2 separate regions of the Homo sapiens genome follow, and region 2 is linked to region 1. Evidence: fine-mapped expression QTL. Tissue or cell type: lung. Region 1 holds a variant in brackets; the other region holds the start of a gene. All regions are shown on one strand. Distances are from middle to middle.

Evidence for each region. PIP is the estimated chance that this variant, and not a neighbour inherited with it, causes the effect.
Region 2: ADARB2 starts here. The variant in region 1 is fine-mapped to the expression of ADARB2 in lung (GTEx, PIP above 0.99).

Annotation. Positions count from the first base shown.
Region 1 is chr10:2,049,790-2,057,896 of GRCh38, reverse strand. No RefSeq gene overlaps it. Among named protein-coding and RNA genes, the nearest start is that of MIR6072, 22 kb to the left of the region's middle. The variant G/T (reference allele first, on the strand shown) is at 4,875.
Region 2 is chr10:1,734,183-1,742,289 of GRCh38, reverse strand. ADARB2 (adenosine deaminase RNA specific B2 (inactive)) reads left to right here and starts at 4,765. Exons shown (of 10, transcript NM_018702.4): 1 at 4,765-5,239. The coding sequence starts at 5,140. RefSeq lists a silencer at 4,816-4,875 and an enhancer at 4,837-5,433.

The DNA.
Region 1 (8,107 bases):
ATAACTGCCTCTGCTGACACCCCAGCTCTGCTCTGCTGACACCCCAGGGGCTCCCTGCACCACGTTCACTGCTGGAGTCTGTGCATCTTCCCTGCGCAATGGATGTTAGCCCATTTTAAGATAATGAGAGGGAAGATTGGAGAAGAGGAGGAAATGGTTTGAGAATATATATGTAGCAAAGAACAGAGATGGTATCTAACCCTGGGATTGTTTGACTCCACAGTTCTTGCTCTTGACATTTAAGTTTAAACTATAGAGATTCATAAGTCGATAGCGTTCCAGTTCCTGCGGCTCACACATTAGGCAGCTGCACCCTCTGCCTAAAGTGTGTGGGGCTTTCCCTATGCACTCACAAAAAAGCTCACAGGGTCACAGGGTGAAGACCCAAAACAGTCTGTGTGCAAGCTGAGGAGCAAGGAGGCCAGTAGGTGGATCAGTCCAAGTCCCAAAACCCCAAAATTAGGGAAGCCAACAGTGCAGCCTTGTCTGTGGCCGAAGGCCCGAGAGCCCCTGGCAAATCACTAGCGTGAGTCCGAGAGTCCAAAAGCCGAAGAACTTGGAGCATGATGTTCTATAGCAGGAAGCATCCAGCACGGGAGAAAGATGAACGCCAGAAGACTCAGCAAGTCTGCTCTTCCATCTTCTCCTGCCTGCTTTATTCTAGCTGCACTGGCAGTTAGATGATACCCACCCAGATTGAGGTGGGTCTGCCTCTCCCAGTCCACTGACTCAAATGTTAATCTCCTTTGGACACACCCTCACAGACACACCCACCGTCAATACTTTGCATCATTCAATCCAATCAAGTTGACACTCAGCATTAACCACCACAAATGTAATAGTAATTGCAAAAGTAAGATGACAGCACAATTGTATAACCATGCCTGACCATAAGCTCAAACCAATCAACTCTCTGTTTAGAGGTAGAGAAATTTAAGCTGAAGGTGTTGGGAAGAACCATCCAGATTACCAAGATAAATCAATGGAAGTCATCAACGGCTCATTTAAGACATTTTATCACGTACAAAGCCACAAATTCTTCTATTTCAACGTTTCCAAGTTTTATGATTATGAGGGTATTTGTGTGTTTCCCAGCAGTACAAAGGTGCAATTATCACTAGTTTATATTGTATCTCTTTAAGGTGCATATCACGCTGCTTTGATACACAGGTACATTGTGAAATGATTGCTACAGTTACCTTTTACACGTGTCATAAAAACACCTAAAATCTACTCTCAGCAAATGTCCAGACTACAATATTATTAACTGTAGTCCTCACACTGTACGTTATGTTCCTAAAACATATTCATCCTACATAGTTTACATTTTCTATGCTTTGACATATATCTGTGCTCATATCCCAGCCCCAGCATCTGGTAAGCACCATTCTACTCCCTGTTTCTACATACCTAAGTTTTATCTTTTGTTTTAGATTTCACACGTAAGTAAAATCATGCAGTACTTTTCCTTCTGTGTTGCTTTTTTTATTTAGAATACTGCCTTCCTTTGGTCTACCCAAAAATCACTACCTTGATAATAAGATATAATAATAATATAACAATAATAATAAATATATCTGCGCCTTCATTTTCATTGCAGCATTATTCGTAATAGGCAAGACGTTGTGCTTACCAAAGTGTCTGTTGGCAGAGGAATGGATAAATGAATTGTGATATATATACATATACACACATATGTTTGCATAGCACACACACACACACAAACAATGGAATATAATTTAGCCCTAAAAATATCACTCTTGATAGTATTTTTACCCATATCATATGAGATGATACTATAAGAGACTAAATGAATTACCACATCACTGGTTCTACACTATCAAAGAGAGAGATTTTCCCTGAAATCAAAATATTAAACAGAATGTCAACTAACCAATATAATTGGGTACAAATGTTCCTGAAATCAGAGGGAATTCGGAACACGGATTTTTTGTTCTCCGACATTCTGAAATGGACAGGCATGATCCAGCATACAGCTGAGTTGACTCAAAAATAAAATCTGGGACAGAATAAAAAGGACTAAGATAAAACTCTACAGTGATTTGATTGTTTACAGAGATTTAAATTCTGAGAAGAGCCCAGCTCCTTCTAAAAGCAGATGTGATTTTAATCTAAATTCTTCTGTGCCCACAGAAGTGCTGTTCTTTCTTTTTTTTCAAATAATATATTTTATTTACCTAGCATGTCAAAAATAGTACCATTTTCATATGTGATCTAAGTATAATTTTTCATGGACGTAAGGAAGGAAACATCACACACCGGGGCCTGTCGGGGGGTGGGGGGCTACGGGAGGGATAACATTAGGAGAAATACCTAATGTGGGTGACGTGTTCATGGGTGCAGCAAGCCACCATGGCACATGTATACCTATGTAACATACCTACAGGTTCTGCACATGTACCTCAGAACTTAAAGTATAATCTTTTTTTTAAAGAAAAAGAAGTGCTATTTTCTAATCTAATATTTTTTACTCTCTTCACAGAAAAAAAAATAGAAGTAAAGTCCCTATATATTTCTTCATCAAATTAATTACATGGGCACGTGTTTTGGCTCCAAATGACTATAATTTTCTCTGCAATTTCTCTGAGTTTCTAAACTCTAATGGGAAGCAGTCTTTGTACTAGAGAAAAACTTCAAATTCCATAAATCGAGATGGAATAGCAGAGTTGTTTGCTTTTGTATGGGTTTGTATATTTAATGAAGCTCTAGATAAGATAATGGGATTCACTTCTGATGCACATTCAAAGATATTTCTGGGCCTTCCACCATCAGCCTGTTATGATTAATATACCTAAAGTCGACAGAGACACACACATATAAAATAGTAAATGCTTAAATAAAAAATGTTATGTATAGCCATATAATTTAAATGTTCTGTTTTTGTCACCAAGAAAGAGGTCTAGGAGAATCTTCTGTGGCTAAATATTGGACAGAAGGCTTCTGAAAAATCCAGAGATTGCTGTCGGAAAGCAATTAAGCTGGAGAAATTACATTAGAGGAGAGCAGATGCCATATTCAAGCCAGTTCCCTATTTTTCATGCAGTTGGGGCTCGTGGGTCTTTTATTTCCTAATAAACAAAAGATTGACAAACACCTGTCCTTTCCCTCAGCAGGTAAGGTGTTTATTAGAGGAGTAAAGGCAACATCATGAACAAGTGAGCTCTCCTCTTCGTATTCTAAGTTAAGAGTAAAAGAAGTTAAGAGTAAAAAGAAAATCGAGGAATTTAGAATGTTTATCCCCTTTTAGATTGAACTTCACCAACAGCCTAATGCGACTTTTACATGGTCTTTTAAAGTCCATTGTCCTTACAGAGGGGCGCCCACGTTGGCAACAAACCTTGTCTAGTGGCAACGACCGAGTTTTCTTATCTATTTGTGCTGTCTGCCAATCAAGCGAGCTATTTTTTTTTCTTCTTTGGGGCGATCAAAACATGACCAAAACACTATGCATAATTAGACAGAACCGTGGTTTAAAACATCACAGAAATCATATTTCTCTAATTTTCTCATGCGCTAAATCCACGGAGGTCAAAAGTTAAGTACTTTTTTAAATTTCAAATTTTATCATCAGCAGGGTCCTGAACTGTGTGTGCGTGTGTGCTTTTTACCTTGCCATATTTTAGCTTTTCAGATTTTTTTGCTCTTGTGCTTTATAGAAATGTGTCGATGACTTTACCTCCTCTTTGACAATTTAAAAATGTCTTTCTGTTTTCAATTTAAGGATTCATTTCACCATATGGTCTGTTTAGCCTGATAAACCCTCCTGCCCATTATGAAATAATTGTAGCTGTAGAGAACCATCCGTATCTCTGTAGGTGAGGTTATGCCAGTGTTTTCATGTGCACTGACCTCTTCTCCTACTCCAGGAATTTATCACCGAGCAGTCAATTTATTTTAAATCTGCAACCTGGTGTATAGGAACTATTTGTCATGATGTATGTAGCCCAACAGATCATTTTTGTTCAGAAATGTGACTGTCGTACTCAAATCCATTCTTCTGGGAAGCTGGAGTCAGGCAAACATCTATGTTCCTTATGGATGGTGTCGCAAATCAATGCAATGGCGTTCTCTCAGATTAACACAGAATTAAGCATAAACTATTTTTCAAGAGTCATATAGACCTTCAGAGCAACAATGCAGAAGGCAGATTTTAATGTTGGTGATGCATAGTAACATTGTCGCATGCCAAGATATTTTATTTTGGTGTGTGTTTAATTTCTAATAAAATTATTCTGCCTCCTACATTACTAAATTTGAAATTCTTGTTGGATTTTGCTATTACTCATGTTCATTTCAATTTGGGCCATAAACATAAGCCACCTAAAAAGTTGTAAAATGTTGCATATAGTGAGAAAAAAGCAATGAAAAGGCTTTTGGAAATGCTCTATTCCGCCAGCTCCCTCACTCTGATCATCCAGGGATACCTTGTCTTCTTCTCTTCTCTCCCAGAAACGCACACACCTTTCTCACCCTGCCATACACCGTCTTCTTTCTGCCACCTGGCATAGCTCCACCATCCTGTCGACCAATCCTACCTGTTTCTTAGGGCCCAACTTTCTGATGGAGATAAATAGATCCATGAATGATAATTAGCCATTTGCTCATTTGCTTATTGAATGCATATATCTCATCTCATGCATGGCAAAGCTTTCTCTAGGGGATGGGGTTCCTCAGCGATCACATGTTCTAATGTTTGGGAAAGAAGAAAATCTAAAAATAATGCATAAATAATCTTTTATCTAAAATATTTTCTATTTTTACATCATTAAACAAAGTGATGAAACATAAATCAATATTTTCCAACTGACATAAAGGTTGGAAGATGACGAACAAGATGTTCTGTCCCAGTTGGA[G/T]AAATAGCAACATCCTGTCTATGTTCTGGCCATTCTTGCCATGACTGTGATTTCTAATTAGTTGATTTATTGTTTGTTGTGGCATTTTCTAACTTAAACTCTAATACATCAATGGTTTCTGAGATTTGACCCAGAAACTCAAAATGTGCGTTAAAAGGAAGCCATATTTTGCTGAGTATTTAGAATAAACATTACTGTACTTTAGTAGTAAACAAGTACGTGGGATTCAAAAATTCATATCTCCAAATTTGACTATTCTCAAGAAACCACAGGTATAGGAGGGACAATTATGTTGATGTCTGAATGCATACGTTCTTTGGTGGTTAACCAACCTCACTCACCATCCAGGGTCTGCATTCTGGTGAGACCCCCGCCACCCCAGGCCATGTCACATGCATATTTACGCCTACTGGATAAACAACATCCTGCTGTCTGTGTAAAAGAAAATGGCACAAAGAACTCAACCTCTAGTGAGGGTGACAGAGGCAAAGACAATATCAAAGATTTTAAGCAGCTGGTGGTCCCGTGCCCGAAAAGAGAGATGTTCCATAAATAAAATAATCAAATGTCAAATGACTCAGCACTGAATAAAGGTTAGTACGCTATATCCTTGTAGGACAAAGAAAAACGAGCACACAAAATGGTTACTTTTTATGATTAAAAATAAAGAGTCATGCAAAAAACAAGACCCTTTTGCAAGTTGAAAAGGCAGTTGAATGTGGGTTGCGAATCCATGAGAGAAACTGAGTAACAGATGGAGACGCGGCCAGGGCAAACCAGAAGCATATGCAGAATTTTCCTGTGATAAACTGCTTAAAAAAGAGCCACAAGCAATTATTGGTTGTTTGGAAATGGCAAGAAACACGTCTCTCCCTAAAGAATGCCTGTAACAATAGTAATAATAATTGTAACAATGTTAATAGCATGGGTAATAAGTGTAATAGTTGTCATGTGCCAGCCACTGTTCCAAGCTCTTCACAGGGAAAAATTCATTAAATAGTTCATGATTAGGAAAAGAGTTATAGTTGTTTTTGCAGCTCTCAACATCCAGACAAATTATAATTTTAATATATGCTGCTACCATCTGGCTGCAACCACCAATAGTACCAGACATCACAGCTACTCTTTACTGATCTAGCCCATGTCAGGCACTGCGATTGTCTTTCTGTATGTCTTTCCTCACCAAATTCTTATGGCAGCACAATCTGATACAAACTGCGCAGGTAATGATGTAGTATATTGTTGAACAATTACAGTAGAAAGCTATATTGGACATTTATAAATAATTCATACATTTAAGCCTTTATAAAGTAATTGTGTATACAGACTACTTGCCACAAAGTCAAGTGCCCTGTTGATAATTTTCATAACACTCTCTGCATCTCCATAGTTCTTATCTGAATTGCAATCACTTAACTTTTCTTTGTTCAATTTATCTCCTACTCCATCTTTCTATGGACGCCGTATAAAAAGGGAGCATGTATTCCTTGTGATCTTTGTATCACTAAAATCGAGCAGAGGCACGACACACTTTATACCATCTTAACCGTTTTTAAGTGCACCGATCAGCAGCGTGCAGTACATTCCCCTCTCTGCACAGCAGAGCTTCAGATCCTTTTCATCCTGCACAACCAAAACTTGGCTTGCAGTAAACCATAATTCCCCCTACTTCCCCCAGGCCTTGGCAACCACCTCACTGCTTTCCATTTCTATGATTTTGACGACTTTAGGTGGTTCGTAGAGTGGGACCATATGCTATTTGCTCTTTTGTGGCTGGCTTTATTGCACTCAGCACAATATCCATTCATGTGGAAGTACATGACCAGATTGTTCTATTTTTCTGAGACTGAAAAATATTTCAGAGTTGGAAATATCAGCAATTCACTTAGGACTAACTATCATGGAGGGACCCGTCAGGAAATTAAGAGAAATCAGTTGGATATATGAACCTTGAGTACAGGGAAGAATCCAGGATGAACATATAATTTGGAGACTTATCAGCATTACATACTATTTATGATAGTAGGTGACTCCTCAAAAGAATGGGAGGAAAGAAAGAAGACAAGAAGTCTTGGGGCTGGATTTTGGCACAGTTTACCATTGAGAAGATGACGAGGAATTAATAAATCAGATTGAAAGGAGAAACCCGAGATGAAGGAGAGATAAACGAGAAGTGTGTAGTATCCTAGAATGTACATAGTTCCTAATATTTTGATATGGTGCACAGGCTTTGGGTAATTTACTTTTTTTTAATATATGTAAATATGTCAGTAGGATAACTTACTATACTAAATTTGTTCAATCAAGAGTGTGTGTTATTAGGGTACCCGCCAAAATGTCCTATAAAGAGGGCACCATTTATAACCCCACTAATGATGGAAGAGAACGCATGTGTCCCCACCTGTGGAAAACACAATACAAAATAAAATGTTTTGATCTTGGCAAACTGGATTGTAAAAACAGGCAATATTTTCAGTTTATGTGTTTTAGAGACATTTTCTTTTTTTCTTCTTTAAGATTTTTAAGCTTCTCATTCATTCCTCTGTAGTGAGTTGAGTTATGCGCACAGTTGAATATATTGCCATGGAAGAACCTTCTATCTGTTAAGGAAATGAATCTTCTATCTCTGAAGAATATTACAAATGTTTCTCTATAAGGTGTCACTTGTTTTTCCCTCTCTATGTGCATATATGTGTGTTTCTATGTTGAAATTCCAAATTTGTGTGCAGCCAAATTTAACCGCCTTACCATTTATAGATTTTTTTTGTTACATTAATATTATGAAAAGGATTATTCCTCTTTTTACTTCCACTAAATGTATCGGGCCTTTTTTTTTTACACCTTTGATCATCTTTGAATTTATTTTGGTATAAAGTATAAGTCAGAAATGTAAAATTTTACTTAATTTTGCCTTTAGCCACCAAATTGTACCAAATATTTACGGCATGATATTTTACCTGCTGATCTGCAGTGTTACTTTGACAAATCTACTCAGTTCCCTCCTTTATTTCATATTATATTAACACTTCTGGAACTTCCCTACGCATGGAGTCTACACATCTGGGTTTCCTTGCAGTTAGGTCCTGGTTGATAAGTTATGAACAGAAGTGATGTGTGTGATTTCTGGGATGAATAACTAAATGGAAGGATCACATTCCTATAACAATGGGTCAGATCCCTATATGATTCTGAGTCATATCCCTATATGATTCTGTCATAGCCCTATAACAATG
Region 2 (8,107 bases), 320 kb after region 1:
CTTCCCCAATGTGTTAGACCCATAGCACCAACAGAAGCAGAATTTGGAGTCTGTTCTTGTGATTATGCATGTAGGATTTTTTTTTCACTTGTATTTTCCAAGCACTGTCTTTTTATTTTATTTTATTTTTTATTATTTTTTTGAGATGGAGTCTCACTCTGTCACCCAGGCTGGAGTGCAGTGGTGCAATCTTGGCTCTCTGCAATGTCTGCCTCCTGGGTTCAAGTGATTCTCATGCCTCAGCCTCCCCAGTAGCTGAGACTACAGGTGTGCACCACCACACCTCGCTAATTTTTGTATTTTTAGGAGTGACGGGGTTTCACCATGTTGGCCAGGATGGTCTCGAACTCCTGACCTCAGGTGATCCACCCGCCTGCTTTACACCAAGTTCATTCAGGAAATTGCTAAGTGTGCATTTGCTGTTCTCAAACCATAAGCATGCCTCCAAGAAAAAGAATGAACAAAGGGAAAAACTACTCTGGTAAAAGTGTAGGATAAAGAGCATTTCATATTCAAGATGCTCCTCTGCATCCTGGGACTTCTCTGCTGCCCCCTCCCCTTCACCAGCCTCCTTCCATGCCCTTTGAAGAGAATGTGAATACACGTGCATGTGGCATAGCAGGTATATTGCACAATATTATTTGGAAATACTTTCAGGTCTCATGCCCAAGTTCTTTGATGTGTGTTATTTAGACTTAAGAGCAACGGCTGAAGATGAAAGAGTAAAAAAGTCCCCTTGTGCTATTTCTTGTAAAAAGTCATAATTGTGTGTCATATGTGATGATAAAGTGAGTCAGCAAACACAAATATCTCCAGAGAATCCTTTATTCTGCTATTTTCCACCTAGTGAAATTGTCTGATGGAGGGAAGGGGATATTAACTAGAATTCTGATTCTAAAGAAACCATGTTTGTTTGTCAGTGTTATTTGTTTCGGGAAACCAATAAGAAATCAAGTCAGCCAACCCTTTAACTATCTGGAAAGACATTGCAATGCATTAAGAACTGAAGTATTGTAAGTCAGTATTGACCATCAGGACTTTGAAGCAAAGAATAGTTGTCCATGTCTTCAGACAGGTCAAGGAGTTGAGAGGAAAACATTCGGGAGTGGGCACAAGATGATCTGAATATGGGTTAAAAGATGCAAGCTGTGTGGTCAGCCGCAGGAAGGATGCCTTAGGTCTCTCTTTTGCAGAAATAAAAGATCAGGGCAGTTATGTGAATCTATGAAATTTCTCATGGCTGTTATTTCGGGAATGTATTGGAACCTTACATTCGGGTCATGGCTCTGCTGCTATCTGGCAACATGACACGAATCCAGACCTCACACTTCACCTTCGTAACCTCAGGGGAAAAATGAGGATGATAAGGTCTTTCTGTCCACATTGTATGTTCATTCTGAGGAAAGAAAAATTCTGATATGTTTATATGTGTGTATATTATGCACACACATAGGCTTACTGAAGCTTTGAGTCACTATTTAATGTATTTTTTGCTTATCTCAAGAAGGCTTGTAGAAGTTCACAAAATCTACCAATTTCAGGCTGCAGGATAAAATACCAGCAGGGCGTAGTGGTAACAACCCCAGACTGTGAAGTTAGGATGTGCTGAATGTGAATCCTGACTAGTAACCCGTGTGACTTCTAGCAAGTTACCTAAGTTGTCTGAGCCTCTGAAATGAATATTGTTTCAGTCCTGCCGCCATCGAGGTCTTGTGCATTAACTGAGAGTCACTATAACATTTAAGCTCAGAACCATACCTTGAGCAGAGCAAGCACTGCCCCAGTGGTAAATATCAGCCTCTGCCCTGCAAGGACACTTGTGTCCCAGGTCAGTGCCCGCACAGCCGCAAAGCCACAGAGAGACGTGGTTTTGCCTCCTGTGGTGCTTGTGATCTATGGAGAGACAGACATTGAAGAAACAAGCAAAATATCACACAGGAGACCTGTAACATTGTAGGACTGATGAGAGCAACAGTGAGTTGGGGGAGCTTTAAGCAACTCCAACAAGAGGACCCTTTCTGGCCTTGATTGAGAAAACTCTTCCTCCTGGCACACACATGCCATTTGGGTGTGGGGACTCACTGCGGAGGCAGCACTGCCCCTTCTATCCAGCCAAGGGCTCCTTTCTATGCCTCACCCGTCTCCCCCCGACCCCTATAGGTTCATGCCGGGCTGCAGTTGGCTTTGTAGCTGCCTGTTCCTCCTTGCAACCTCTCTGCTGGTGCTTTGTTTTGTGGGAAGAGCAGGGACTGAGCATGAAGTAGCTGGGGACACCACAGCGACATCTCCTGATGGGCACCGGGCGAGATTGGCTCCTGCTCCTGAAGCCTCTTCCAACTGCTGCTCATCCCACCACGTTGCAAAGCTGCGCTGAGGCACTGTGGGAAACAGGCAGGAGGTGAGGAGGCTCATCGGGGAATGGCAGCTTACCAGCACTGCTCACTCGCAGCCCTGCTTGCAACAGCAGAGTGAGACGTGCTGGAAACCACGCTGGAGTTAACGCACTTGTCGCTGCGAGCCTCTTCTTTAAAGCCCCTCTGTGATGAGAAACAAAGGCTTTCTCGCCTAGCCGTCGCCCTAGCATCATCTATTATGCATCGTCTTATGCAAAATAAATAAAATACAGAAAACAGCAAGTATCTGTGAAAACAGCATTTTCATAAATTATACAAAAAAGAACCAATTGGAGGAACTTCAAGAAAAAGGTTTGCCAAAATTTCGATCGTAACTTTCAAATTAGGGTCTAAATGAAGTGTTCAAAGACAGTTTTCAGTTTTGTTTCCCCACTCCACCAACATCAGAAGAACATTTAACAGACACGTTACTTTCCGGCCACCATACCTGCCCTTGGAGTGAAACAAGGGTTCATGTATACGAGTCTCCCAGACAGCACGGTTGCTCCGTGTGATGATGGAGCTATTGGGGCCATTAATAAATGCTGACCACCTTGTGGGGGCTGTGTGTGTGTGTGAAGCTCTTCTGAAGCACCTTCCTTCGGTGACTCCACCCCCTGATGGGTTTTCTGCAGATACAGAAATAGGGCAACTCTGGATTAGTGCAGCACATTGTGTGAAGCTCAGAAGTTTCACAGGCAGAGTCCTAGAGCTGTGTTTCTCGATATAGTTTAAGCACTCAAATATCTCGGGTATTGCAGAGAGGAAGTGAGAGAGCTATGTGCCTTCTCAACCCTCGCTGGGAATTATCAGCAGAGCTGAGCTGTGCTGTCATGGGAACAGGGTTGTTGAAGCCAGCCCTGAAGAGGGATGTTGGTTTGATTGTGGTCCTCAGTCTGAGTTGGACTAGAAGGTTCAACATTCTAAAAGGAAAACGCAGAAGCCCTGTCTTTCTGAGGCTTGTCTGCAACATACGCTCATTCCTTCCAAATTATTTGCTGGAAAAAATTTAATAAATAATCATAGAGTAATTAACATGTTCCAGTTCCTGTCTATACTGGTTGATACTGATTCAACGAGTATGAATGAACTTATGAGGTGGGTGACGTTGTTATCCCCAGTTTACAGATGAGGAAACTGAGGCACGGTTTAACTTACCCGAGGTCATAGCAGTAGAGTTAAGATTTGAAATCAAATGTCTTACTCTCTCTCATCAATGAAAACTGAGCTACGATCTATCAGCTCAGCACATAACAACACAGGATCATCCTAATTATTTCCAATGTCCCCCAGAGTGATTCTTTTTTCTTATGATAAAAATTATCTGGAAATTTCTAGGCACATAAGCAGCTGAAAAGGTTGCATGTGAGGCAATGAATAGCAGAAATATTTGTGTGCCATTTTTATATCAACATGTTAATGTGTGCTAATGAATTTTAGAGTGGATTTTTTTAAAAACATGACTATTGTAATTAAAAGCTTATGTGATTTAAATACAAGATGCAATGATGATTACCAGATTCTATTCCTCTTTATATTTTACATAAGACTTCCAGGGTTCCATAAGTATAATCTTGAAACATAGGACATTCCTGGAAAAAAAAATTGCTTAAAACTATTTCAGTGTGCAATCCACCTCTTTGTAAATGTTACTTTCTTCCATCCAAATATTACATTTGGCAACAAAACTCTCCGCTGAGAGCTTTCTCTTCCTTTTGTGTCATTGTTCCCTAAATAAAGCAACACATGAAATTCCTGACGGCAAAAATCAGACTCAGATCCCAAAACCTCTGTCTTTATGCAAGATTTATCTTTTGCATTGGAAACGGCCAAGGAATATGAAGAGGGGAAAGAAGAGGCAAACAGACAAGCATGCAGGCTCTGAGGAATAAATGCCCCTCAGGACGCTGTCTCCTGGGGAATTGCAAACCTCAGTCCGTTTCTGAGGAAGTGCGGTCTCTGCATTTCTGAAAGAGGTATTTCCCCCCCTTGACACAAGGAGCATGGTAATGAATTGACTAGTTAAAAACTGTTGGTTGGAAAAACCCGTCCCTGTGTCTTTCTGAGCAGGGCGAGCTGAGCTGTCCGCGAGGCTGCGGCAGGAGGCCTCGTCCTCCCGGGCAGGGTCCCTCCTGGAGGCTCCCCCGGTCTCTCCCAGACGCACCCGCGCCGCGTCCTTGTTCCCCGGGAGCAGCCTCCCTCCAGCCGCCGGTCCTGGGAGCTTCACCGTCCAAACGGGAGCTGAGTTTGCAAGCGGCCAGGCGGCGGTGCGGCTGGTGCTGCTGCTGATGTCAGAGCCAGAAAGCAGTTGTGATTGGATCTAATTAGACGCTGCTGCAGCAAATAGACAAGCTCCCTGCGTGATTGGCTTCAAAGTGGCTGGTGCCAAACAACTAGCAGAGGCGCAAAAGTAGCCTCCCTGCGCTGGGAGCCCAGAGCAGGAGGCAGAGCCCGCGGGAAGCTCGGAGCACTCAGGACGCCGCGCGCCCTTCCCCGCCCTCCCTGACCAGGGAGCAGCTCGCTCCAGGCGCCCAGCCGAGGCCCCCAGCCCAGTGGGAGCAAGTCATAGAGAACAATTCGAGAGACAGAGAGACGGAGCGCGCTTTCCTGCTCAGTCCTGAAAAGTGAGCCGCTCCCGGGTTTGCAACCTCAAGCTTCGCAGCAGCGGCGGCGGCGGCTGCCGGGAAGGAGGCAGGTGCAGGTGCAGGAGGGAGGCGGCTCTGGGCTCCGCGCCTGGGTCTCGGCCATGGCCTCGGTCCTGGGGAGCGGCAGAGGGTCTGGAGGGCTGAGCAGTCAACTCAAATGCAAGTCCAAGAGGAGGAGGAGGCGGAGGTCCAAGCGGAAAGGTAAGGACCGCGTGGCGCGCCGGCCCCTGCCCCCCTTCACCCCCGGCTTCTCCACCCCGGCCTCTCATGGGGTCTCCGGGCTTGTCCGTTGTGAGCAGCTTCACTTTGGGGTGCTGGCGGGATGGCTGCTCCGTGCAGGGCGCTCGGGAGTTCAGATCCCGTGGAAATGTCTGGGGCCTCCTCTTGCCCAGAGGGGACAGTGAGCAGCCACGCTGCGACATGTTTGAGGGACCCGGACGAAGTGGGGCGAGGGCGGCGAGGAGCTCCCCGGGGACCCCGCGCGTCTCCGGGCCCCGCAGTCCCCAGTGGCCGGCCGGGCTGGCACTGCCTTCCACCCTCCGGAGGCCATCTCGTCTCCCAGTGCCAAAGGAATTACCCAAAAACGGGGGAACGAGCCCTCGCGCCAGCTACTCCCATCCAAACTGTCCCGGAGGAAGGGATAGGCGAAGCCCTGCGATCGCCTCTCCAAATTGGCTGGCAGTTTTTACTCAATGTGGTGCCCGTCGATTTGTAAACATTGGGTCGTAAAGAGAACACAGGGCTCGTCCTTGGAGAAATAAGCAGAAATGAATACAGGAAAACAGAAAGAAGCATCATATTTTGTTAGTGGTAGAAAAAAACCGCAAACCAGGAAAGCAGGAAAAGCAGCCGGCTGACAGCGGCCACTGACAAACTCAGCTGTGCCTTGTTACTGATATTCCTGGGGCTGGGCCGCGCTGAAGTTAGTCAATGCTACAGCAAGGGAGGGCTTTCACACTGGGGATTTTGCAAAATTAGCAATCGCTCCAATATGAGAGCAATGCCCCCAGTGCCATCGTAGCCTGTGTGCATGCCAGGAAGAATTAAAAGATTCTTCTCATGCCGACCCTTCTCTCCTAGAGGAACCTGTGTTATTGTCAGTTCCTAGTGAGCCTGCAGGAGAAAGTTCAGTTCTAATCATGATTTGAAATGTGCTGATTTTTTTTAAGTGAGGTAGAAGTATAAAGAACGGTTGGAAAAACACAGCTAGAATTGATCAGCTTTGCCAGTTGTTTGAAAGCAGGAGGCAACGTTAGGTGTGTTTGGGGTTGTCCATCTTTCCTGAAGAATTTTCATCTTTGCATTGGCCTAAGATAAGTTTCTACCAGACCGTTTCCTGTGTGCCCTCGAACCGTCACCAGGTCCTTTATTGCCTCTTCCAATAATAGAAATTATCCAGACAGTCAGCAGGCATAAATGTCAATAGCAAACAGTCATTCATTATGACCGAACGTCAGGACCACTGGGAGGGATTGGCCCCCACAACTTCCTCAAAAGGTTTTGGAGCCTTTGGTTTCAGAAGGGAGGTGATGTTGTGGTTCTCATTTACCTCTCAGCTGCTAAGTGTGCGCTTGCGATTCACTTTGTTGTTTGAAATTATCATTTTGAAACAGACCTGTTAGTGTCCTCCAAAGATAATGCCAACACAAAGTGGCATTGATATTGAGAAAGTCACCGGATTGAATAATGAATATGACTTTTAAAAGAGGAAAAAGGAAGCATCATCTTTACACTTGAAATGTTCACATTTCCCAATATTTTTTGATTAGTCTATTTAAATATTTAGAGTTGAAGAATGTGGAGTAATAGTTCGCAATAATGCATTTTATAAATATAAACAGGAGGAAAGTGTTGCCTTTCTCCAAATTCACTTGCCTTGCCAGGAAGCGTCAGTCATGCTAGCTTAGAAAGTATTCAATTTAGGGGGAAAAAGGAAATCTGGGGAAAGACTTCATTTGCTATAAACTTAACTTTAGCAATTCAAAATAAAACTCCTATAGCAAATATTTCCATACCTTGGTTATTTTGAATATGTCAAGTCCCTTAATTTTCATAGCCAAAAATTGAAGCGGGAAAGGGCATTCAGGTTTTGTACACTGATTTCTGTTACGAAGAGATTTCTGGCGTGCGGGAGAATTTCCCAGGGCACCTGCCGGCAGCTATCTTGATAGGAAAGTCAAATCAAACGGCTAAAGATTCAATTTTTGGGGAAACGTTAACCATGTAGATGTAACTGATCAAATTAAAAGGTAAAGTAACCAGCTAAGAGACACATTAAATAATTATTTGCATTTTCCTGGGAATTGATTACTTCATCTATGATACCTAGTTATTACAGATGCTGATATTTTTTATTTTATAAAAACAATGGTGAGTTTAAATTATGTTCTAATTGTCATGAATCTTAACAACCATAAATGAATAGAATAACCTCAATTTTAAGCTTATCTGATATTAAAACTCTATACTTGCCACAATTTAAAATCCACGTGTGTATGAGAGACTGTTAAGGAATTTAGTGTGGCTCTATTAGGTGCTAACTGAAGACACTGACAGAAGCACAAGGTAAGGGCTGTTCTTATGGGGGAATAAAGACAATTAAGATACATGCTGACCCTGTTGCCTGTCAGATGCGTATTTCTACCTAGTCTAAGGGACAAGAATCATTTTTGAAGATGCATGATAACTTTAATTTCCCAGTGTGGTGACATCTGGCTCCTTTTCTATGTGTGACTCTGAGAGTGACTTTGGCATGATATGCTTCTTATCAAAATGATCTGTGAGCTCTGAAATAAAGCATGCCGGGGCTACCACTGAAGGGTGGTCAGGACACAATACTTTCATTAAGTATAATCCATAGTCTTGGAAATGATATTTTTTTCTGTAGAAGTTATATTTTAGTTACTATGCCACAAAGGCAGCTGTATGTATCTTTAAAAAAAAAAAAAAAAAAAACACCTTCGTCACAGAATATGACTTTCAGGTATTATTTGGCAGGAACCTGTATTTCTCTCTCAAATAAACTTTAAAGAAGGTTCTCAGAATATGTCTCCCCACACATCAATCCTA